7 linked regions of the Homo sapiens genome follow. The protein of the gene in region 1 purifies or fractionates together with the protein of each later gene. This does not show direct contact. Each region holds a gene or a part of one and is shown on either strand. Other genes may lie near its edges. The genes, in order: ST7, GM2A, ACP3, LRRC32, PM20D1, SMPD3 and CTBS.

Evidence for each region.
Region 2: the proteins of ST7 (region 1) and GM2A purify together in Homo sapiens (affinity purification with mass spectrometry; one large-scale study listed by BioGRID and IntAct). This does not show direct contact.
Region 3: the proteins of ST7 (region 1) and ACP3 purify together in Homo sapiens (affinity purification with mass spectrometry; one large-scale study listed by BioGRID and IntAct). This does not show direct contact.
Region 4: the proteins of ST7 (region 1) and LRRC32 purify together in Homo sapiens (co-immunoprecipitation; one large-scale study listed by IntAct). This does not show direct contact.
Region 5: the proteins of ST7 (region 1) and PM20D1 purify together in Homo sapiens (affinity purification with mass spectrometry; one large-scale study listed by BioGRID and IntAct). This does not show direct contact.
Region 6: the proteins of ST7 (region 1) and SMPD3 purify together in Homo sapiens (affinity purification with mass spectrometry; one large-scale study listed by BioGRID and IntAct). This does not show direct contact.
Region 7: the proteins of ST7 (region 1) and CTBS purify together in Homo sapiens (affinity purification with mass spectrometry; one large-scale study listed by BioGRID and IntAct). This does not show direct contact.

The regions. Positions count from the first base shown.
Region 1 is NC_000007.14:117,215,501-117,219,000, forward strand, and holds part of ST7 (suppressor of tumorigenicity 7 protein), read left to right. Parts: intron 1-3,500. UniProt on the Homo sapiens protein: May act as a tumor suppressor.
Region 2 is NC_000005.10:151,266,685-151,270,184, forward strand, and holds part of GM2A (ganglioside GM2 activator isoform 1 precursor), read left to right. Parts: intron 1-46; coding exon 47-229; intron 230-611; coding exon 612-767; 3' UTR 768-807; coding exon of another isoform or gene 808-956; 3' UTR 957-3,500.
Region 3 is NC_000003.12:132,327,407-132,330,906, forward strand, and holds part of ACP3 (prostatic acid phosphatase isoform PAP precursor), read left to right. Parts: intron 1-860; coding exon 861-956; intron 957-3,500. UniProt on the Homo sapiens protein: A non-specific tyrosine phosphatase that dephosphorylates a diverse number of substrates under acidic conditions (pH 4-6) including alkyl, aryl, and acyl orthophosphate monoesters and phosphorylated proteins.
Region 4 is NC_000011.10:76,660,748-76,664,247, reverse strand, and holds part of LRRC32 (transforming growth factor beta activator LRRC32 isoform a precursor), read left to right. Parts: intron 1-381; exon of another isoform or gene 382-1,619; intron 1,620-2,739; coding exon 2,740-3,500.
Region 5 is NC_000001.11:205,840,133-205,843,632, reverse strand, and holds part of PM20D1 (N-fatty-acyl-amino acid synthase/hydrolase PM20D1 precursor), read left to right. Parts: intron 1-881; coding exon 882-957; intron 958-1,417; coding exon 1,418-1,479; intron 1,480-1,743; coding exon 1,744-1,822; intron 1,823-3,309; coding exon 3,310-3,381; intron 3,382-3,500. UniProt on the Homo sapiens protein: Secreted enzyme that regulates the endogenous N-fatty acyl amino acid (NAAs) tissue and circulating levels by functioning as a bidirectional NAA synthase/hydrolase.
Region 6 is NC_000016.10:68,365,009-68,368,508, reverse strand, and holds part of SMPD3 (sphingomyelin phosphodiesterase 3), read left to right. Parts: intron 1-662; coding exon of another isoform or gene 663-770; exon of another isoform or gene 771-1,165; intron 1,166-3,416; coding exon 3,417-3,492; intron 3,493-3,500. UniProt on the Homo sapiens protein: Catalyzes the hydrolysis of sphingomyelin to form ceramide and phosphocholine. Ceramide mediates numerous cellular functions, such as apoptosis and growth arrest, and is capable of regulating these 2 cellular events independently.
Region 7 is NC_000001.11:84,567,941-84,571,440, reverse strand, and holds part of CTBS (di-N-acetylchitobiase precursor), read left to right. Parts: intron 1-720; coding exon 721-859; intron 860-1,301; coding exon 1,302-1,510; intron 1,511-3,500. UniProt on the Homo sapiens protein: Involved in the degradation of asparagine-linked glycoproteins. Hydrolyze of N-acetyl-beta-D-glucosamine (1-4)N-acetylglucosamine chitobiose core from the reducing end of the bond, it requires prior cleavage by glycosylasparaginase.

The sequences.
Region 1 (3,500 bases):
GATGCCTTGACCTCTGCTGTTACACTTAGTTCCTTTACCAGCCTTTTGAGGCCTGTGGTATTCTCATTTTACAGATGAAGAGACAGGGACACAGATTAACGACCCACGCAAAGTCATACGCTAGTGAGCCTAGGCAGGTCCTGCTCATCCTTTAGATGCCACTTTGGCCGCTTCTCCATTATGTACACACAGCACCATGACTCCCTTGGAGGTATTCATCACCGTGGGAACCTTTGCTCTTACTTTCATGATTGGATCCTGCTTCTGGCACTTGGTGGTGAGCTCCATGAGGGCAGGGGCAGTGTGTGCTGGGCTCACCTTTGTGTGCTTGTCACATAAGAAGCCACTCACCTTTTGTCAAGCAACTGATTATAAGAAGTAGAGCTGGGATTCAAACTCGGTTCCCTCTGTTACAAATAATCTGTATAAAATTATCTAAGATACTCTAAGATTGATTACATTCTATCCTTGCCTATCTAGTAGGTAGAGTAAGAAGAGGTCATTAGAAGTCATTGGGAAAATCAGGAATTAACTTGTTCATGTATCCATCCTTTTGTCATTTCTTTGGTTCTGTTTATTTTTCCCCCCAGTATCAATTGAGAATCTCTGACGGGAACAGCACTGATAGACTTGGAACCTAGAAAATGTGTCTGGTCAGGGATAGAAGAAGACAGCATTGTGCCACAGACTTGATTGTGAAGGCATGATCTGTTCTTTCACTAATTCTCAGTTTCATTTTGACCCTTCAGCAAATTCACAACCAAAATCAAGGTAGGGGAAGGGATGGCACACAGAGGAAAGTGCAGAAATATCATTTATATACCATGTATTCACTCTGAGTGGCCTAACTTTTTTGTTTTGTTTTTAACCCAATACATGTGTATTTTTAATTCCTCTGAAATTTGTGTTTTCTTAAGGATTTTTAGGTCTGTATTCATTCATAAAATAGATCTGTTCAAATGACCTTTTTCTATTCTTATTAGCACCACCAAATCAGTGTGTTTTTAATACTTAGATTCGCAAAATTTCTGGACATTTGGCAAAAGGCACAAGGCTGTCATGGAGCAGTTGCATGTCTTAGCAGTGAAAGGGACCAGGAGGTGGGAGGTGACGCTGGCAAGGCTTGTGCAGTGCCTCTACCGGCCTCTCTCTGGACCTCCCCTGCTTATCTCACACTTGACTGGGCCCTGCACTGCAGGGTGGGTAAAGGATAGAATTGCAAGCAGAAATTGTATTTGCTTTTGTTTAGTGAAGCCAAAAGCCTTAATATTATTTTTTGAGCTCAATGCAAATGGCAACTGACATGAGAGAGATTTTAAGAGCACCATAAGCATCTTTATAATCATGGGGGTGGAGGGCAATCCGGGAAGAGGGTGTGGGTGGGTGGGTGGCTGTGTGTACACATGCACTCTTTTTAAAGTTGTATTGTGTCTCTAACCTCTCCAAAAAAGACCAGAACCAATTAGAAAAAGGAAAAGGCCAACTTGACGCACAAAATTCTATATGCATGCCAAATATTGGAGTGAAAAACATGTAGCATTTGACTGAAAAGACACCAACCAACCATTAGATTTCTATGGTTGAACACTCTCAAGATCTTGCACTCCTGTATTTCATTTAAAAAATTACTCCCTGAAGTGCAAACTGACTTCAATTTTGAATAAAATTTAGCATTCAAATTTATAGCCACTTTGAAAACTGAGGGTTTATTTATATCATATGAACTTGAACAGATACTTAATTACAGCAACCCAGCAGCCCTTTGCACATGGAGAATCTGGATTTGGGAAAAAAAAAAACAAAAAAAAAAACTTCCCACGTAGGTTTTTCCACATTTTTCAGATGCTTTTGTAGCAGCCATCATTTATGGGAAATGGCATTAAAATCCTGCCGTAATGTAGTTTAAGTTTAAATTCAGTGCTTCCCAGAAGAGATTTTAGTGTATCCTATAAAGGCACTAAAAGGCTTATTTTTGTTTTTGTTTGTTTTTGTGGGGGGTGTTTTGTTCTCTTGAAAGTCTGGTTCTAATGAGAGAGATGTTGGTTCCTTGGAATGATCTTTGTGTGTTAACAACCTGTGCAAAGAACTCCTCTCTTGCTTGTTCTAGCGGGCAAAAGTCATCTTTGTTTGCGTGCAAGAAAAGGTCTGATTGAACTAGGGTGAGCCTTTCATTTTAAGCAGAGTTAAAGTCTGGGGTGTTTTTAATGTTTTAATCTCTGTTTAAGAGGTTTCTGTTATGAGAGGAAAATTGATAACATTTTTACCTCAGCAAACTGCCAGCAAACTGGCTCTGCTCTAATCCCACATTTATAGTGATTTATATTCTCCGTGGCAATGTGCTGTAACCTCAGAGTGATACCACTGCGGTGTAGATTGACTGCATTCCAAATGCTGGAATCACATACATAATGTTTTTACTTTTAAATAATATTCAGACACCAGAATAAATACCATATGTGCACTGATGCTGGTTACAATGGAACCTTGTCATTTCTTGTGAGGGAGAACATTCTTTGTTTCTGATTCCTGTTTGAAATAAGTATGCAAAAGATAAATATGTACATTGACAGCATTTTGAGAAGGCTCTGGTAGTTACACAGCTGAGGATGTAGCTATGATTCCTTGAAATGTATCATTTAAAACTAAAAATATTGCTGCATGTTGCCCCCATCCCTCACTACCATACATGAAGGCAAGGATTGTTATCTGACATTCCCAGAGTAGGGTAGAGCTTTTATATTTTATATCTACAGCAGGCTGTAGTAAGAGGACATCTGTTGAAGAAAAATTACCTCCGTGAGTACTGTTCATAGGAACAGTGAGACTAACATGCTGATGACATTGTAACAGGGAGAGTAACACACTTGATCATGGGAAAGGATGGATTGATTGGAAAGCCGTAATTCAGTGTGAGCCCTAATGTCATCTGATGCTACAAAAGCAGAATTTAGGTGGCCTAACATCATCAAAATACAGATAATTAATCTCTCCAGATCAATTTTCCCACATGATAAAAGTTAAGATTTAAACTTTTAATAAAGTTTAGAAACACCTCCCGAGTTATACATTTTTAGATTTTTGTTTTTATTCATCTTGATTGGAATTCAAATCCACTTAAACAGTATTTTTTAAATCAATTTGGTAGAATACCTTTCATATTTGTACATCTATACAAACTCCAACAAGTCGATCCACATTTGCTTCTTGGGGAAGCATTTTAATCCACGTTTGCATGATTACTATTTGTTTAGCTATATTGAATTAGTGCCCATAACATTTTAATAATATTTAGTAGATGATGAAACCCTGGGCATTGATACTGATGGCTTCCCAACCCCTCTGCACCTCTGTCCCCACCCAGTTTTGTGAGGTTTGCTCAGAATATATAGTGTGAGATGAATGTGTGAGTAATCCATCACAATTTATCTCTGACATTTCATCTGGCACATAGCTTGGTGGGGTAAGCCTTGCCTCCTTTGTAGAAGTGTTCCCTGTTATAA
Region 2 (3,500 bases), on another chromosome or scaffold:
ACACTTATAACCTTTTTCAAACCTTTGTTTTATTTTTTTTTACCAGGTGGATTTAGTTTTGGAGAAGGAGGTGGCTGGCCTCTGGATCAAGATCCCATGCACAGACTACATTGGCAGCTGTACCTTTGAACACTTCTGTGATGTGCTTGACATGTTAATTCCTACTGGGGAGCCCTGCCCAGAGCCCCTGCGTACCTATGGGCTTCCTTGCCACTGTCCCTTCAAAGAAGTAAGTACTTAGGGAGGAGAGAGCGTTACCCCTGTGGCTAAAGAGATGGGGTTTGGAGAGAAGGGTCTTTGCATTCTCCTTCTGCAGATCTGCATGTCTCTGGATTTGTAAGCCAGTGTGACCTATCAGGAATCACTTATCTTCCGGGAGCCTCAGTTATCCATCTACGAAATGGGAGACTTGAACTTAGATGTGATCTTCAGGGCCCTTTATCCATAATAATCCATGCTCTACAGTGCTATGGCCGTCTCTCATCTTGTGCGGCTGTTTTGAGAATGGGAAGAGGGGTGGTAGTTCATGGCTGCAATCCTAGCAGTGGCTCTAGGAGAAAGACCCCATCAGTAGGCTCCCACTGACTGGCGGTCCACTGGCTTTCCCGCAGGGAACCTACTCACTGCCCAAGAGCGAATTCGTTGTGCCTGACCTGGAGCTGCCCAGTTGGCTCACCACCGGGAACTACCGCATAGAGAGCGTCCTGAGCAGCAGTGGGAAGCGTCTGGGCTGCATCAAGATCGCTGCCTCTCTAAAGGGCATATAACATGGCATCTGCCACAGCAGAATGGAGCGGTGTGAGGAAGGTCCCTTTTCCTCTGTTTTGTGTTTGCCAAGGCCAAACTCCCACTCTCTGCCCCCCTTTAATCCCCTTTCTACAGTGAGTCCACTACCCTCACTGAAAATCATTTTGTACCACTTACATTTTAGGCTGGGGCAAGCAGCCCTGACCTAAGGGAGAATGAGTTGGACAGTTCTTGATAGCCCAGGGCATCTGCTGGGCTGACCACGTTACTCATCCCCGTTAACATTCTCTCTAAAGAGCCTCGTTCATTTCCAAAGCAGTTAAGGAATGGGAACCAGAGTGTTTTAGGACCTGAAGAATCTTTATGACTCTCTCTCTTTCACTCTTTTTTTTTTTTGTCACTAAGTTAAAAGCGAAGTGAGAGTATTAACGTTTTTGTTCTCCTCCGGCCCCCTGTTACAATGAAGGGGCAAAAGTATTTGCTCTTAGTCTATTCCTCCCTTAACTTCTGTGACTAATTTTTATTTCCTTTCTAGATTTGCCCAATTAATACTAGGGTGCAGTGTATCCTGGAGAGGTAGGGTGTGTGGGGGAGGAATCCCTTGGGGGAGATATTAGGAGTGCTCTGTTGTTTACAAACTCAGGTACCCGCAGGGCCTAGCAAGAGACTTAAATGACTGATAAGAACCGTGAGAAACATGTTGCTTCCAGGCTTGATTTCGATTTTTCGCTTTTTTTTTTTTTGAGACAGAATCTCACTTTGTCACCAGGCTGGAGTGCAGTGGTGCAATCTCACCTCACTGCAACCTCCGCCTCCTGGGTTCAAGCAATTCTCCTGCCTCAGCCTCCCAAGTAGCTTGGACTACAGGCCCTGCCACCACGCCCGGCTAATTTGTGTATTTTTAGTAGAGATGGGGTTTCACCATGTTGGCCAGGATGGTCTCGATCTCTTGACCTCGTGATCTGTCCACCTTGGCCTTGCAAAGCGCTGGATTACAGGCATGAGCCACTACACCCAGCCGATTTTTCCTTTTTGATTAAAGATGCTATTACAATGTAAATATTTCTTACACAGAAAGTCACAGCACATGTGCCCATTGATACAAGGCTGCTGAGGCCTGGTCTCCAGTTGGAAATATAATTAAGGGTGGCAAGGACTGGAGTCAGTTGGAGAGTGCATAGCCAGTCTGTGAAGACAACTGCCAGATACTGGCAATACTCCAGCCTGGTGACAGAGTGAGACTCTGTCTCAAAAAAAAAGTTTCAATGTTTACTCCTAGAGAAGCCAAAAATCCAGATTTGTATATGAAATCTTACCATTTTAAAAGATTGGCAGCTAATTATTTTTTTAAAAAGCTGTGCAGTGTGATGTGTCCCAAACGGACTGGCTCATGGGTGGCCACGTCACAACCTCTGATCTCAGACCGTGCATGCCTTGTCCTCTTAAGACAACTCCTGTGGCACCGTTTCTCCCTCCACAGGGCCAAAGCCATAGTGTCCGGTCCCAAGGACAAGGCTCTTCCAGTGCTAGGAGAGGTATGAGCAGCCTCTCACCTGTGAGCTGTGGGGATCACAAGGCTGCCTGCCTCAGTCTTGGAGTCCTGTTGGGTGAATGAGGCAGATGGGAAAGAGCCTCACCAGCAGCTGCTTTTGGAGCAGGGGTCCAAGGAAGAGAGGGTGGCCTCGACATCAAACTGCCTGGATTTTTCTACCACCCTGTTACATCATAACAACTTCTGAAACACACACCAGCCCTGAGTTCTGGGCTCATTTGAAGCCTGGAATAGCAATAAATCTTTTTAACTTGCGGACAGTTTCCCCTTGCCTTGGCTGCATATTTCACTGATCACATCTCAGGATTTCAAAAGCATTTTTGGGGTGGGGCTCTTTTGGTTGGAAGGGTTTGTTGGAACGGTACAGGTGAGCCGAGGTGATTCCAGGGACGGACCCTTCTGCAGGAGCTTGAGCTTGCTTGTTGTCTCTGCTTCATCGCCATCCAGCTCCCTTGTTTGCTATTTTGCTTTCCATCACATCATGACTGCGGAGAGCAAAAATCACCTAGTGACCATTGAACAGGTCCCAGAGACAAAATCTTTTTATCTGAGGAATTTAAAAGGGAGCAAAGACCACCTGGTGACTATCAGGCCATGCAGAGGCAAAACGCCTTATTTGGGGAAAATTAAAAGTAATTAGACTTTCCTATTATCTAAAGCAGGCATCTGGTTCCAGATTTCTTTTCCCCGAAAAAAACCTTAGAAGTAACTAAAATTTCTGTACATCTCCGGAATGCCATGCTGAAACTCACTGCAACCCCACGGTCCCGCTTTAAGGTCCATAAATATCCCTAAGGAAAAATCCACCGTGGTACATTCAGTCCTCTCACCGAGGTGCCCCATGGCAGTCTTCTGCAGCATTCTTCTAATACCTTTCCTTTTTCAAACCTATACTGTTGTTGGTGAATTCTTTTTACCAACCCACGAGTTGACCACTTCCCAATGCCGGGGATCTGACACCTCACCTGGCAATGACCTCCACAGCCGTTTCCCTCTGTTGGATCTTCCAGCCTTATTCTCAACAGTTCATTTTTAGTTCACATTCTTGACCGAATCTCAGTAGCTCAGTTAATCTTTTTATGTCTGCTCTGCTCTTGGGTCATATGTTCCGTGAGGTTTCTTAGGGGTGGGGGATGAGGAGTTAAAGGTGGCATCTTCAATCGCAGGTCAAAGCAGACTTTAATAAATGGTGCTGAGCCAA
Region 3 (3,500 bases), on another chromosome or scaffold:
GGGAGGCTGAGGCATGAGAATCACTTGAACCTGGGAGGCAGAGGCTACAGCGAGCCAAGATGGTGCCATTGCACTCCAGCCTAGATGACAGAGCAAGACTCAGTCTCGAAAAAAAAAAAAAAGTTATACTAGTTGGGCACGGTGGCTCACACCTGTAATCCCAGCACTTTGGAAGGCCGAGGCAAGTGGACCACCTGAGGTCAGGAGTTCAAGACCAGCCTGGCCAACATGGTGAAACTCCATCTCTACTAAAAATAAAAAAATTAGCTGGGCGTGGTGGCAAGCGCCTGTAGTCCCAGCTACTCAGGCGGCTGAGGCAGGAGAATTGCTTGAACCTGGGATTCGCCACTGCACTCCAGCCTGGGCAACAGAGCAAGACACTGTTTCAAAAAAAAAAAAGTTATACCACTATTACTGTAATCATTAAGGGAAGAATACTTCTCATCAGAGTTTGTCTGCAGTAAAGTACTCTTGTCAGCTTTGTGTTCCTTTCTGTCCTATCTTATGTACAAACCGATCTCCATTATGTGTCACCTGCCTTCTAATGGCTGATCATCTTGATTCTTACATTACCTGAAACACAGTGAAAGTGTTAGTGAACTTAGAATAGTGGTTCTTAACTAGAGATTTACCCAGGGAGATTTTTTAAATCCTGATGTCCTGGCCACATCCCAGACTAATTAAATAAAAATCACTAAGGTTGAAAGCCAGTCCTCAGAATCTTTTAAAACTCCTTACGTGATTACAATGGGAAGCCAAAGTTAAAACCAATGAGTTAGAAAAAAAAAAACTATTATAATGAGCAGAAGCAAAACACCCAAGTGACGTTTGTAACATCACTCTCTCACATCTACTTTCAGGTGTTTCGGCATGGAGACCGAAGTCCCATTGACACCTTTCCCACTGACCCCATAAAGGAATCCTCATGGCCACAAGGATTTGGCCAACTCACCCAGGTTGGTTGGACTTTTAGCTAAAGATTGTTGATGAAGCTGGGTGTGGTGGCTCACGCCTGTAATCCCAGCACTTTGGGAGGCCGAGGCAGGCGGATCAACTGAGGTCAGGAGTTCGAGACCAGCCTGGCCAACGTGGTGAAACCCTCTCTCTACTAAAAATACAAAAATTAGCCAGGATTGGTGGTGGGCACCTGTAATCCCAGCTACTCGGGAGTCTGAGGTAGGAGAATCGCTTGAACCTGGGAAGTGGAGGTTGCAGTGAGCCAAGATCGCACCATTGCACTCCAGCCTGGGCAACAAGAGTAAAACTCTATCTCAAAAAAAAAAAAAAAAAAAAAAAGATTCTTGATGAGTCTCAAGGGGAAATGTATATAGAATTGTCTGTTTTGATATTTTTTGCCCTTCTGGCTTTATTTAAATGTAAGAGATGTACATGAACAAAGACTATATGAGCTTAGAAATGCTGAAGAGAGCCAAGTGGTAATCATAAGCCAGGATTTGAATTTCTTAGGCTTCACATGAGAAAGTGAAAAATAGTCTTGTAATCAATAAGCTGAATCAACAGCATTGGGAAACATGATTCCCCAAAGTGCTGATATCAGAATATGATTTCTTGTCAGCTGGATATATTGGGATTTGACCTTCCTTATAAGTGGTCAGTTAAACACAGGGAGCCCTACTTTCTGAAGAGCATCTAAGGAGAAGGTGAACTGGGGAGCAAAGCCATCTTTAGTCACTGTTCCAAAGCCCTATTCCCTTTGCTTGTAAGATTGGATGACTCTTCTGTTTGGAGCCACAAGGCCAGGTGAATTGCTTCTGTCCTGATCTGTTTAAATATATTAATTAAGAAAATGTCACAGAATCTTTAGAGTAGAATGTCTCAAAAACTAATGGGTCTTAATCCTGCCAAAACATTGGGATTATCTGGAGAGGTTTAAAAAATATATTGATGTCTGCCTGGGAGGTTCTTATTTAATTGGTCTAGTATGTGTCCTGGGCATTGGGATTTTTAGAAGCTCCTTGGTGATCAGTTCACTCTAATGTGTAGCCGAGGCTGAGAATTTCTGCCCTGACTATATTTCATAGAGGAGAAAACTCAGGCAGGCTATTTGAGACCAGCATCTTCTGTCTCCCAGGTCAAAGCTCTTCTCACCATAGCCTACCCATCTTCTGTCCCTTTGAATGAAAGAGAGGCTACAAAAATTCAGATTTGCTTGTTAATACCTATGGCTCTGTATAGACTCCTGTTCTGTTGCTATGTTTTCCCATTAAGACCAAAAGATTCTTCTAGGCTGCAGGATCTGAGTTCTTCTTCTGAAGAACCTTGATTACCCATCAGATTCTATTAGGGCAGTATTTCTCAAGCTTCCATGTGCAAATGAATCACTTGGGAATCTTGTCAAAATGTAGATTCTAATTCAGCAGGTCTGATGTGGGACCTGCGATTCTGCATGTCTAACATACTCCCAAGGATGACAATGGCACTGGTACATGGACCACATTTGAAGTGACAAGGTTCTAGGGCTCAGATTCCTACCCTTGTCTAGGTACTTTTTTTTTTTTTTTTTTTTTTGAGATGGAGTCTCACTCTGTCCCCGCAGGCTGGAGTGCAGTGGCTCGATCTCAGCTCACTGCAGCCTCTGCCTCCCAGATTCAAGCAATTCTCGTGCCTCAGCCTCCCAAGTAGCTGGAACTACAGGAGAGCACCACCACGCCTGGCTAATTTTTTATATTTTTAGTAGAGATGGGGTTTCGCCATGTTGCCAAGGCTGGTCTCAAACTCCTGAGCTCAGGCAATCCACCCGCCTTGGCCTCCCAAAGTGCTAGAATTTCAGGCCTGAGCCACCACACCCAGCCTTGTCTAGGTACTTTAAATCTACATAATCATAAGATGATGGCTGTCTAGATCAGTGTCTAGGTACTTTTAATCTGCCTTGTCTAGGTATTTTTAATCTGCATAATCATAAGATGATGGCTGTCTAGATCAGTGGTTTTTAAAGTGTGGTCCCTGGACCAGCAGCATCACCATCACGTGGGAACTTCTCAGTAATGTAAATTCTTCACGCAATACCCAGTGAACCATAAACTTTGGAATTAAAGCCCAGAAGTCTGTGTTTTATTGAGTCCTCCAGGTGATTCTGTGCATGCTAAAGTGTGAAAATCACTGCTTCATACAGACGACTATTTAAAAAGTCAGCTGTAAGAACACAATTAGACCTAAAGTACCTGCTTCTCCGCTACTCAGGTCACGGTATATTATTCCTTTCCCACCTTGTCCCTATCGTAGATGGGAAGTGATTATAGTGGTGGTCAAGCAAATGACAAGTGTGACAAGCAAATGACAAGTGGGACCAAGCAGCAGCCACCGTAACAACCTCCTCTCTGGCTCCCAAAGCTCTAGTAAGGCTCTGGATTAAAGACAAACTTGAATGCTGCATTTCCAAAGCATGGTGCTCTACTACATGCATCTGAATCACTTGGGAGACTTGTTAAAATGCAGATGTCAGGGCCCCACTCAGGAACTAATGAGCTGGAATCTCTGAT
Region 4 (3,500 bases), on another chromosome or scaffold:
AGGCTTCTAGAGCAGGGGTCTTGGGCCCCTGAATGGAAAGCCAGTCTTGGGCTGTGGGCTTGGCAAACTTTGTGTCCTGGATCAAGTCTCAGGGGCTGGTGCCCCAGGGAGCCTTTGCCTATCCAGAGGCAGTATGCCTCTGCACTTGCCCGGGGGTAACACGCGGGGCACAGCACGGTGCCCCCCACACTGTAACAGTCAGTAAGTGGGTCCATGATGCTCTTTGCTGTGCTGACCAGCTGAGGGCCCAGTGGTCAGAACTTGGCTGGCACCAATAGGAAAAGGAATTTGCAAATGGGAGTTTTGAGCCCCTGACTGTCTGATCTTGGGCAGCCCACTCCCCTTAGCCTCAGTTTCGTTAGGGGTACAATAGGAACAGGGTGAACAATGCCTGGGAAGATTTAATGGGGTAGGGGGTCTCTGCACTCAGCACGCAGCCTGACACAGCTGGGGCTCCATCACAGGTCATTTTGTTGTTTCTGCTTTAAGTAAGGAATGCCCCAGGGGGTAAGGGCTGTGAGGAGGAGGCTATGTTTAGTGGCCCCTGCAGACAGAGAGGTTGTGAGGGAGGAAGGGCAAGGATGGGCAAGGCAGCTGGGCAGGTTTCAGGTTCACACAGGTGCCCAACTGACGGGGCATCCCTGGGCCTCCTGAGGCCCCTGTGAAGCTGCCTCCCTTGGAGGCTACATGGAGTCACTGTGCTGCATGGAGTAAGAAGAGCCACACGGAGGCCTGAGGCTGGGCAGGTCTCTTCCTCCCCCTACTCACCTTGGGGCTCTCAGGAGGAAGCGCAGAGCTGGACCAGGGGAGGAACACACCGGCTTGTGTTCCCTCCCTACCAGCTCAGCCACTGGCTCACTGTGAATTCACGCAAGTCACTGCCATCTTCAGGCCTCAGTGTTCACATCTGGGAAGTGGGTCAGCTGAACTCTTCTTGCTCTACCCGTCTTTGACTATATTTTGAAAATATCAATTATGCATTTTCTTTCCTCCTAGAGAAGTGATTGATTCAGTGCCTCAGACCTTTACTAAACTGATGATGTCTGGGACTCATTCATTAGGAAAAATTGACTTGCTAGTCAGGTCCAAGGCATGCACATCCACCAAACCAGTCCCTGTTTGCTCTGAGCTCGCTGTCTAGCAGGTCCTCACACACACAGCCACAATTCAGCGGGGCAAAGCTCTGAGAGGAAGCACAGTCAGGGAGGGCTCCCTGGTGGAGGAGGCCCTGAAGCTCAGTGTGAAGAGTTCATGTGTGGATCTGGTTGGGGATGGCATAACCAGCTCAGGGAGCAGGCCCCAGCAGTGGGTGTGGGAGCGCATGATGGGCAGTGGTCAGCTGTGGTCACTGCATGTGGGCTGGGGTGGGAGGTGGGGGACAGGTTGGCAGGGGCTACAAACAGCCTCGAAGGCCCTGCTGGGGATCCTGGACTTCACCGTGGAGAAGTTTAAGCCAAGCTGCCTCATTGTCAGAGTAGAGCTTTTGAGCAGTTGTCAGGCATTTAGCAGTGAGTGGGTCAGAACGGGTTGGCGGAGACAGAAGCTGGGGGCGGTGAGCCTGAGCCCGGTGATTGTGGAAGTCAGACCTTTTTCTGGGAAAGGCTGGGGTTCCTGGAGGCCTGGAAGAGAAGAGGGAGACCTGCATTTGCACAGGAAGAATTTTGGTCCCAGAAGGCACATCTGTGGAAGAACAAGAGTTCGGCCTTTTGTTGTTAAAAAACCTGGGTTCAAATCCCAGCTCTGCTCCTCACCAGCTGGGCAATCCTGGCACCTCCCTTCCCCTCCCTGAGCCTAGATTTCTGTAAATAGGGGTGATCGTATCAGATGGGCAGGCTGTGGTAAAGACCAATGGGACCATGGGCCTGAAAGTATTAACCAAGATGTCAAATGCTGAGTGGCTGCTGGGGAAGAACGTAAGAAAACAGAGTGGTTATGTGACTTCCTGGAGGTCGCACAGCACAAACACAGTCTCATCACCAAAGACTGTGGATTTGGCTCTGGCCATCTTTTCCCTGGCCCTTCCCACCTCCAGGGGCCCGGTCCCCTGACCCAGCCTGGGAAGAAAGCCACCTCCTAGGAGGTAACAGCAACAGAGAGGAAGCCACATCTCGGAAGCATCCACAAGGAAGGCAGGCCCCAGGACCCAGGCTCTGCCCATGACACGAGAGCCTGAATGAGGTCTGAGGCAGGGAGGCCAAGATAAAAACTGATGACAGAGCACAAATTACAGTTTTCCCTTTTGGAAACATTTCTCCCAAAGTGGAGAAATTCCCATCTACCACCAGAAATTTAACTATCTGTGCCCATAGAAGGGACCTAGGACATAGAATCAGGAGCCCTGGGTCCCAGCTCTGCCCTGCTGCTCACTGGCTTGGGGTCACTCTGTGGGATATATGGCTGTTTCCTGTAAGAGGGGTAATAATAAGTACAGGGTTTCTCTTTGTTAGTTTATTTGTCCTTCTATCTGTCTATCATCTCTCCATCTGTCCACCCATGGAACCTTCATCGAGTTCCTTCCTTAATGCCCATTACTGCGCTGGGTGCCCGAGATGGGGCAGGGAGCCGGATGGGTCATCCAGGCATGGGGTGATCAGGCTGCGGTGGGGGAAAGTTGAGCATTCTGGGAGTCCATGGGAGAAGGGTTCCCCAGCCAGGCAGGGTTCCTGGATAAACATGTCTGGTTTCATCCCCTACCGTGCCCACTTATGCCAGCTGTCTCCCCACCCTACCCCTCCCCAGGTGGACAAGAAGGTCTCGTGCCAGGTTCTGGGCCTGCTCCAGGTCCCCTCGGTGCTCCCGCCAGACACTGAGACCCTTGATCTATCTGGGAACCAGCTGCGGAGTATCCTGGCCTCACCCCTGGGCTTCTACACAGCACTTCGTCACCTGGACCTGAGCACCAATGAGATCAGCTTCCTCCAGCCAGGAGCCTTCCAGGCCCTGACCCACCTGGAGCACCTCAGCCTGGCTCACAACCGGCTGGCGATGGCCACTGCGCTGAGTGCTGGTGGCCTGGGCCCCCTGCCACGCGTGACCTCCCTGGACCTGTCTGGGAACAGCCTGTACAGCGGCCTGCTGGAGCGGCTGCTGGGGGAGGCACCCAGCCTGCATACCCTCTCACTGGCGGAGAACAGTCTGACTCGCCTCACCCGCCACACCTTCCGGGACATGCCTGCGCTGGAGCAGCTTGACCTGCATAGCAACGTGCTGATGGACATCGAGGATGGCGCCTTCGAGGGTCTGCCCCGCCTGACCCATCTCAACCTCTCCAGGAATTCCCTCACCTGCATCTCCGACTTCAGCCTCCAGCAGCTGCGGGTGCTAGACCTGAGCTGCAACAGCATCGAGGCCTTTCAGACGGCCTCCCAGCCCCAGGCTGAGTTCCAGCTCACCTGGCTTGACCTGCGGGAGAACAAACTGCTCCATTTCCCCGACCTGGCCGCGCTCCCGAGACTCATCTACCTGAACTTGTCCAACAACCTCATCCGGCTCCCCACAGG
Region 5 (3,500 bases), on another chromosome or scaffold:
TTGAGATGGAAGCCCTGGCACTTTCCCACTTTAAATTTGAGGAGGCTAAGCTTCCTGCCCTAAAGTTGGGCTGGGAAACTATGCTATAAAAAATTGACACTAGAGGAAGAACAGAAGGGGAAGCCCAGGACAGACTAAAGATCCAGGTGATTAATACAACAGGTGTAAATAAAGAGTTATCTCAGCATGGCTCACAGATACCAGGCTGGGGTCATCTCAAATGGAGTGAGAATTCCTTCCAAGGTGGGGGTTGGGGGAGCCACAGGAGAGACAGAGCCACCAGTATCCTGCAAGGGCTGGAGTCAGAAGAGGATCTGTCAGTATATCCATATGGAAAGCAAGGACCTACAGGCAGAAGCTAGGTCAGGCAGCTAGAGTAGTCCAGAGTCCAGACATTTAGAATCACAAATTGGCAATGACTGGTAGAGCTGTCGAAATTCTCCACCTGTCCTGGCAGGAGGACAAAAATAAATAAGAGTTGCTGGCTATGAATGAGGACAGCAGAATCTGTAACAGCAGAGCTTACTCCTGGCTGGGTTTTCTTAGCAAAGTGGGAAGGAGTGCTATATTCATTCAAATTGTCAGGAGACTGACAATTCTGCTGTAGTATGGGATGGGCTATGAGAGTGGACACACAGGATTCTAGAGAACAGCAGAGGGAGGAAAGAAGGACCCTAATGCAGACTTGGTAGACAGGGAAAGCTCCTGGGGATGTTTTGAGATCTTCAGAATGTTGAGTTGGTGGAGGTGGGAGGGAGGTGAATGAGAGACCTCTTGGCCAGGAGCGTTGAAACTTCCTCCTATCTCCCTTCTTCTCCTCTTCAAGCCACTGATCTTTGGCTGGGGTTCGCTAAGTCTTGAGGACTCTGTTTCTCTTCCAGATTGGAGCAGACACCAATGCCTATCATATTTGGAAGCGGGACAGTGGTGACTGTATTGCAGCAACTGGCAAATGAGGTATGGGAAGAAGTATCACATACTCCTAATCAGCTAGGAACAAAAGACGGACAGAAAAGTAACCTTTAGAGTAAGAAAAGGACCCTAGTACTGTCCAGCACTCTGCCTATTCTCACCTATTCCCAGCCAGTGGCTGAGCCAAGACACAGGGATCTGGCTTGTTCTCTACGGCTGTTAGTGTGTTTCTGAGACCCTAAGACCTAATCTACCCTTTGGGAGCTGGTTCCCACTTATCCTTGAGGTTGCTAAGCAATTGTTCTAACCAACCAGATAAGCCCAGCCAGACAGTAATTGCCTCCCTATTCCTGATCCTCTAGCAGGGATTGAGCTAACTGAATTTAGCAGCACTCCTGACTGCTAAGGGCCCCTGAGGCAGCTCTAAAGTAGAGAGAGACTCAGGTCTCAGAGACCCAGGCTAAACTAGAGGTGACCCTGTGGTGCTGACCTTGTTCTTTCCCAGTTTCCCTTCCCTGTCAATATAATCCTGAGCAACCCATGGCTATTTGAACCACTTATAAGCAGGTAAAGTATTATCTTTCCTTTTTTCACATCCCTCACCTCAAACCTACCCACCCCCCAGGCCCCTCTCCTTGGCTTAACTGGGCCTGACTAATCATCCCTCAGCCACCAGATACTGCATCTCTAAGTGTGTATATTTAAGACATCTCTAAGACGTCTCTCTCAGTCTTAAAGATCCCCAAGGTTCAGGAAAGTGGGTAATGTTTCCGCCCTTTCCTTCACCCCATTGGTTCTTTCTAACATCTGACCTTGGTCCTTTTGTTTTAGGTTTATGGAGAGAAATCCCTTAACCAATGCAATAATCAGGACCACCACGGCACTCACCATATTCAAAGCAGGGGTCAAGGTAACATCCCTGGTTCCTCCCCATATAGCTTTTCCCTACCGCCCTCCACTCCTCCCTTCCTTGAATCTATCTACTGGCTCTTCCTTCCTTCTGTGTGTGTCAGCTGGATCCAAGCCTAGCCACGCAAAGACATAGGCCTTTCTGAAATCTTGAAGGGAGTTAGACCATTCTTGTAACTGCCAGTACCACCAGCACAACTTCAGGGGGCACCATTCACCTAGAGTACAATGTGACCTTGAAGCACTCTAGTAATCGGGTATATAAGTGAATGATGCCTCTGAATTAATTCCTGGCATAACTCACTGGACCGTCCAGTGTGTCAGCTGTAGTGTTCATCAGAATAATAGCACTGTGTCCTGACATTTGAATGGTGTTTTCATCTCCCCAGGATACTTTGTTACTCCATCTGAGCCTTCTAAGAGTCCTATGAGTATTGCCCCAATACCCAGTTGAGAAAACAGAGGCACAAAGAGGTTGCAACAGCTAATTTGCAACAGCCCAGCTCTGTCCCTGACCACTTAGTGCTTTTTTGCACCATACGAGTTCAAAGAAAGATATGCACTTGGGGAGTCTCCCGGCCTCCAAGGAACAATCCCTCCATAGCCTAACTCTTTTCTCCAGTTAGTCCTGGATTCCTCCTGGTCAGGCAAAAAAGTCAGATTTTACAACTGGACCTGGGAAACCACCAATCCCTGCTAGAAGGTCGGGAATGGGGAGGCAATTACTGCCTGACTGGCTTATCTGATTGGTTAGAACAATTGCTCAGCAGCCTCAAGGATAAGAGGGAACCAGCTCCCAAAGGTTATGTTAGGTCTTAGGGTCTCAGAAACATACTAACAGCCCTAGAGAACAAGCCAGATCCCTCTGTCTTGGCTCAGTCACTGGCTGGGAATAGGTGAGAACAGGCAGAGCACTGGCCAGCACTAGGGTCCTTTTCTTACTCTGAAGGTTACTTTTCTGTCACTCTTTTGTTCCTGCCTGACCAGGAATATGTGAGGAGTATGTGTTCTTCTCATCCCCCTCAAGGATCAAACCTGATGTGAGCCCCGTGCTATGCCATGATGGGGGTCAACAGAGGCTCTGGCTGCCCCATCGTGAGTAAGCACTAATGTTAACAGCTGCAGAAATGTCCTGGGTGTGCTGGGAAAGAAAGTGCACACAGAAGGCTTCTAATAGCACAGCATGGGGCCAAAACAGAGATATCTGGGTGATCAGAGAAAGCAGCCTTGCTCTGAACATCTCTGTGACCCCCTGCAGCACCAAGAAGCAGGAAGGTCTGGCTTAAAGCAGAGACACCCCTTCAGCTCTGAATATAACATGTCACTTAGTTCAGAGAAGACAAGAGGCAGACTAGAAAAGCTAAGCCTTGGGTCCTTAAGTCAAATCAGCCAACTCTGCCTGAGCTGAGGAAATTAGCATTTCCTGGGCAGGCAGATGTAGAAGATTTGAGGTTGACTCAAGCCAGGGTTTTGTGCTTCTCTCTCTAGTTCAATGTCATCCCCCCAGTGGCCCAGGCCACAGTCAACTTCCGGATTCACCCTGGACAGACAGTCCAAGAGGTATGTACCATATGTTCCAGACAACAACTCATGCAGCATCAGGGAGATGTGGCCCTCAGGGCCCGGGTTTAACTACAGTCCTAGGGCTGGTCCAGTGTCCCATTTATTCAACCAACATT
Region 6 (3,500 bases), on another chromosome or scaffold:
TGGGTGCACCCCACATCTCCAGCTCCCTTGGCCCAGGCCCCCTCCTCTGCATCAGCCCTGCTGTGGTTTCAGCCACCCTCCTCGTCTGAGGCCAGGTGTGACTCCTCTTATGCCCTCCACTGCCTCAGGAAGTCTGAACGTCACCTTGTACCACCTCCCGCCCCCCTGCCCCCGCCACCCTTAGCTCCAGCTCTGCCCCAGCCACAACCCCGATGAGGGGCTCCTGTACCCCTGGCCCCTGCTTGTCTTGGTCCCACACTGGGTGTGGCCACACCACCTCATGGAGCTCCCTCAGCGGCCAGCCACACAATCCTCTCTTCCCTTCATGGGCTCCTCTGCCCTCGTGCCCAGGGTCTTGTCTGTCCATCAGACAGAGCACCAGGACAGCAGAGCTGTGGTGTGCCCAGCACACGCGGATCCCAGCGCGGAGAAGTGAAGTACGTGGGGCTGCCTTGGGGACAGGCCCAGCCGGAGAGGGGCCGGGACGCTGGAGGGACTCGCTGCAGAAATCAGCGGTCCCCTCCTTCCCGGAAGGCCCTCATGGTTTCCCGTATGGGACTTCAGAGCCTTCAGGGAAATGTGGCTCTGTGAAGGAAGGGACTGGAATCCCTTTTTCCTCACCTACAATAGAGCCTTATTCTGGACACCTCTTCCGTTGACAGTCTTTGCCCGCCAGGACTCAAAGGCACAGCCTTTCGTGTGATTGCTTGTTTTTGCAAGAGAAACACAAGGCTCTGCGGCTCCCAAGGCCACGAGCCAGGAATCAATGAGGCCCAGCAAATAATCAAGTGGATCTTGGTGAGATCACACGGCAGATGAGGAGGGAGAAGCGGGGCGGGAGGGAGCAGGACCTCGTCACTCCTCCGGCCAGTGGGTTCTTGTCGTGCAGGGCCCAGTCTGAGGCCTCCCTGCGAGTGTCCAACCCTGTCCGGGACACAGCGCGGGGCAGGTGACACCAAGTGTTGGATGAGTGAGAGGCTGACGCCTTAAGACCAACAAACAGGCGGCCGGGGAGAAACCGCAAAGACACCAGCCCCTCAGAAAGCAGCGCAGAGCAGCGCACAGCAGCGCACGACAAACAGATCCGACTGGAAGCTGCCTCTTAGACCATGTGAGCCTGTGACCCCGGCCCACAACTCAACTTCTGGCCTCAGTGTGTTCAACGGTAAAAGCAGCATCACTTTATCATGTGCCTGAGCCGTTGTAAGGACCCAGAAAAGTAATGTCCATGCGTCGCCACCCCACCCCAGCACGAGCCCACTGGGCCTGAGATGATCCTCATGGAGGAGGAGCAGTTGTTGCCTGAAGACGGCGCCCCCGTGTGGTCTTTTATTTATTTTGAGACAGTCTCATTCTGTCGCCCAGGCCAGAGTGGTGCAATGGGGCGATCTTGGCTCACTGCAACCTCCGCCCCCCAGGTCCAAGGGATTCTCCTGCCTCAGCCTCCTGAATAGCTGGGGTTACAGGCATGCACACCCAGCTAATTTTTTTTTTTTTTTTTGAGACAGAGTCTCACTCTGTTGCCTAGGCTGGAGTGCAGTGGCATGATCTTGGCTCACTGTGACCTCCGCCTCCAAGGTTCAAGCGATTCTCCTGCCTCACCCTCCTGAATAGCTGGGATTACAGGCACATACCACCACGCCCGGCTAATTTTTGTATTTTTAGTAGAGACAGCGTTTCACCATGTTGGTCAGGCTGGTCTCAAACTCCTGACCTTGTGATCTGCCTGCCTCAACCTCCCAAAATGCTGGGATTACAGGTGTGAGCCACTGTGCCCAGCACACCCGGCTAATTTTTGTATTCTTAGTCGAGATGGGGTTTCATCATGTTGGCCAGGCTGGTCTCGAACTCCTGAACTCAGGTGATCCACTTGCCTCGGCCTCCCAAAGTACTGGGATTACAGGCGTGAGCCACCGTGCTCAGCCTCATGTGGCCTTTTGAGCATGGCGGCTTCATCAGTGTTTTGTTTTTGCAGCAGAACCATCAATGCTGCGTGATCTCACAGAGCCATTCGGGGGGCGGGGATGCTGTTAGGCTAAGGTTTGGGTCTGTCTGTGGGCAAGAAGTGAATGGTGAACCTGTGGGGCTGAACAGCCAGACGTTCGTACCCCCAGGTGCTGGGGAAGGAAGGCTGTGCATTAGGGCTGGGAAGGGGATGAAGAGCTGTAGAAAGCCAGGGGCACCTGCTGCTGAGGACGTCCAGATGGAGGAGATAATACCAGCCTGACCGACTGCAGCAGTGAAGGAAGGACGGAGCCTGCCGAGGCTGTTGGAGCAGATGGGCTGTGACGTTTGGGCTGCTGTGAGCTCCACAGATGTGGGGCACCCACCCTGCGGCCCTCTGCCCTCAGCCAACAACTGGGAGAGGCAGTGTGTCCTGCCCAGCCACCTCCCTGGAGTGCTTTTTGGGTCTGGGGTCTCCTCATCTTGGGAAACTCAGTCTGGAATGGATTTGCATGGCTTGGGGAGGGTACAGAGGCACAGGAGGGAAGGAATCCCAGGGGCAGGGGATGAGGAGCTGGTAAGCGGCCTCTCTGTGCAGGGCATCTCTGTGGCCATCCCTCACCTCTCCTGGGCTGAGCACTGACAAGGGCTCCATCTTGCCCCCACCTGGGGTAGGGCAGTTATGAATTGCCTGCAGGGTACAGTGGAGATGCTAATTTGTATTAAGCCAGCCTTTGGGATCCTGCCAGGGTCACCTGCTCCGTCTTGGGTAAAGGAGGTAAGCAGGAGGTCGGGGCAGAGGGGAGACCTGAAGAGGATGCTGCCACAGTGGGCTCAGGATGGAGCCAGGGGTGTGCAGGGGCCAGCCTAGGACACAGGTCAGGGAGCTCTCATCCAAGACGGGTGACAACGGGACCACGGCCTATAAAGCAGATGACTCACCATGCAGCCAGAAGGCGACGAGGCCAGGAGGGGCAGGGTCTGGGCCTCTTGCTGTGTGGGGTGGGCTCTGAGGCCACGCCATGGCACAGGGGCAACCCCCTGAGATTTCAGGGGGAGAAAGCACCAGGGTGTGACCAGGTCTAGGGTGTAACTGAGGGAGGGAGGAAAGAGCCACAGACAGGACTGGACAAGGAACTGAGAGCCGTGGCCACGCTGGTCACTGGGAGATGGCAGGGCCTGGGCCTCCGGGGAGCCTTGCTGCGGTTCGGCACTTCCCCCATGCTTTGCACAGATGGCCGCCAGCACTCCCCACGCCACAGGCCAATAGTTTCTTTCAGCACCCGCCTCTGGCCCAGATCCGTAAGTCCCTAGAAGCAGGACACATCCTGTCCCTACTCGGACCCCAGAATCCAGCCAGGAGCCAGGCTTGTGAGGGTCTGACCTCATGGGTGGGTGGGCACTGCCAGTGTCCTGTGCTCTCAGGGCCACAGTGACTGGCAGGTGGCAGCACTGACCCCCTCCTCCCCCAGGTGCAGGTGGGAAGCACACCTCAGGACCAAAGAATCGTCGGGTACATCGCCTGCACACACCTGCATGCCCCGCAAGGTAGGGTT
Region 7 (3,500 bases), on another chromosome or scaffold:
AAACAGTAAATGTATTTATGGCTCCATCTGCAGTAGCCAGAAACTTGAGTATTATCAGACTTCTCTCCTTTGATTACTCATTCGATTAGTCACAAAGTCCTGTCAATTTTGCCTCCTTAGGATCTTCCAGATCTGTTCACTTAACGCCACTGCTCCACAATTTTAGTTGAGGTCACCATCATCTCTTACTTGGATTCCTCCAACAGTTTCTGTATTCTGCCTCCAGTTTTGGTGTCTCTTTAATCCTTTTCCCACTGCAGCTGAAAATATTTTTCTAAAATGCATACCTTCCCCTTTTAAAAATGCTTTTATTCTCTCCCTTTACCTCAGGATAAACAAGGTAGTACTAACTTCTCAACAGAGCTTATGAGGCCTTTCATGATTTAATCCATGCCTACTACTCTCTGGTCCTTCACTAATGCTCTCTCCCCAAATTCTAGACGTCGGCCATACTAAATATTTAGTTACGCAACCACCATGTTGTCTCTGCCTCCAGGCCTTGGCACTTGCCACTCTTCCTTCCTGGCCCATCCTTCCCCTCTTTCCCAGCCTGGCTAATTACCCCTGCCACCAATTATCTTGGGACCCCTATGTCTTATGCACTTGTACTCTCACTGCCACCATAGTGTTTGGTGTATGGTGATGTTTGATGAACGGTATTTTGGACGGTCAGCATAATATTCTTGGTTTAAATGATGGTGCTCATCTTTGTTCTGGCAGGTCTTTGTGTTTGATGTTGGACAGAAAACTTGGAAATCTTATGATTGGTCACAGATTACAACTGTGGCAACATTTGGAAAATATGACTCAGAACTTATGTGCTACGCTCATTCAAAAGGAGCCAGAGTAGTACTTAAAGGTATGTTGTTTCCAGATCTATGTGTGCAGCAATTGGGAAATTTATCTGTATCACTTGCTATAGTCCCGACTTTCCAAAAAAGTCCTTTTATGTTTATCTGTTTTTGTTAGGATCCTATAATTAATCTTAGATACTGTGTAATTCATTTCACAAACACAGATCTTTTTAAAAGAATTAAACCACTGTATGGTTTTGAGCAAAATGTTAACTGCCAAATTAGCCTTATGACCTTTACTTAATCATAGTCCACAATTTCTGTTTCTAACTTCAGAACAATTTTACTAATGATTTATAATGGTTATTTTGGAGATTCATGAGTAATGGCTTTCTGTTACTTTGGTATATTCTTTCTCCATTGGAAAACTTCAGTTAAGGGCTTAGTCTTCCAAAATAATGAAATGTTTTTGCATACATGTTCAAAAGATATATACTTCTTCCACAGGAGATGTATCCTTAAAGGATATCATTGATCCTGCTTTCAGAGCATCCTGGATAGCTCAAAAACTTAATTTGGCCAAAACACAATATATGGATGGAATTAATATAGATATAGAGCAAGAAGTTAATTGTTTATCACCTGAATATGATGCATTAACTGCTTTAGTCAAAGAAACTACAGACTCTTTCCATCGTGAAATTGAGGGATCACAGGTAAAAACTCATTTATTTTTTGGAAACCTCATATTTTCCATATCAGAATATACTCATGAGGGTATAACTAATATAATCTTTGTTTTATAGTAATGCAATGGGAAAGAGTTTCAGCACTTATTTCCTAAAAAATTTTTCTGGAGCCTTTGGTGTTCTTATTTAAGGAATTTTAAAGCCCTAAATCTATTCTCTATTCACAGCAAAATACAACACTGGGATTACCCCCACTACTTGCCTTGTAGCACAGTTAGAAGTGTTAGGCAATGGGAGAACAAAAATCAAGGGGGGCGCCTAACCAGCTTTTACCAATGCAGGACAGAAACAACCCAGGAGTAGAGGTAGTTCTGGGGAAGTGTATCACTTGCTCTACAGTCTCTGAATTACTTGCACCCAAGGCCCAGTAAAGCTTAAAGGACTAACTACACAGAACTGTGACAGCTATAACAATAGGCAGTGTGCTTCCCCACTGCCATAATGAACATGATTAGAGCAGAAGGTAACAACACAAGCTATCTTGCCAGACAACAGATGGGTAACAGAGGATAATGTGAACCCAGATCAGTGATCCTCAAACTTGGCCACATATCAAGATAACCATAGGTCTTAAGGAAAAGTAAGCATGTGTTTACTTTTCCACACACATGCACACTGTGAACTCACTCCCAGAAATGATTTTTCAAAAGGTTTTGGGTAATCCCAGAGCCCCCAATTTTAAAAAAGTTTCATTGGTGATTATAGTTAAGAAGTAATAGGCTAGACAATGAGTTTTTTTGAAGACGGGGTGCAGCTCCTTGATATCTAACAGAATGCTTAAAAATGTATTCCAGTATAGAGCATTATGAGTATTATAAACCAGTGATTCCTAAACCTGTCTCAGAATTACCTGAGAGTGCTTGTTTAAAATATCCTGAGTGTATTAGTTTGTTCTCACATTGCTATAAAGAAATACCTGAGACTGGGTAATTTATAAAGACAATAGGTTTAATTGGCTCACGGTTCTGCAGGCTATACAGGAAGCATAATGCTGACATCTGCTTGGCTTTTGGGAGGCCTCAGGAAAACTTACAGTCATGGTGGAAGGCAAAGCGGGATCAGCACTTCAAACAGCCAGAGAAGGAGAAAGAGAGAGGGTGGGGAGGTGCCACACACTTTTAAACAATCAGATCTTGTGAGAACTCTATCACGAGAACAGCACTGGAGGGGGAAATCTGCCCCTGTAATCCAGTTACCTCCTACCAGGCCCTACCTCCAACATTGGGGATTACGATTCAACATGAGATTTGGGCGGGGACACAGATCCAAACCATATCACTGAGATTGACTCAGTAGGTCTGGGATAGAGCTTAGAGAACTGTATTTTTGCCAAGTGTCCTAGGTGATTCTGGTAGAGTTGGTCATCATGAATTTGAAAATTACAGGTAAAATAATTTGAGAATTACTGGTAAAATAATAAGCAATATGACGACTGACATTTCTGTGGTTTTATGCAAATAGGGAAGATCTGTCAGTATGGAATTCAACTTGTCAGGAGAGTACAATGTAGATTAAGAACAGCAAATACCTGGCATACAGGCCACAATACCCCTTCTCCTCCTCACACATTTTGGCCTCAGAAACTTTTCCTTCATTCTCTAGATAGTGATTACTAATAGGTTAGAATTGATGTGTGGAATATATGGGAAACAACCTATTTGACAATCCTGATTAAGCTGTAGTGAAAGAGCAGAGAGGAAGAGATTGAGCAAAATCCTTGCAGTAGGAATATCTCTTTCTGTCTCTTGAGAGGTGAGGAGAACAATTTGGGCTACATGTCAAGTTCATGTTAGGTGAATTAGTGGGAGGGACAGTTGCAAAGGTAGGCCAGATTGTGGAAGATCCAGAATGTCAGGCTGAGGACTGTGCATTTTATTCTGTGTGTAATGGGTTATGTGTGTAAAATAGTGTTTGGGGAAACTATTCTGTAGGAGTATGTAAAACTAGATGAGAAAGG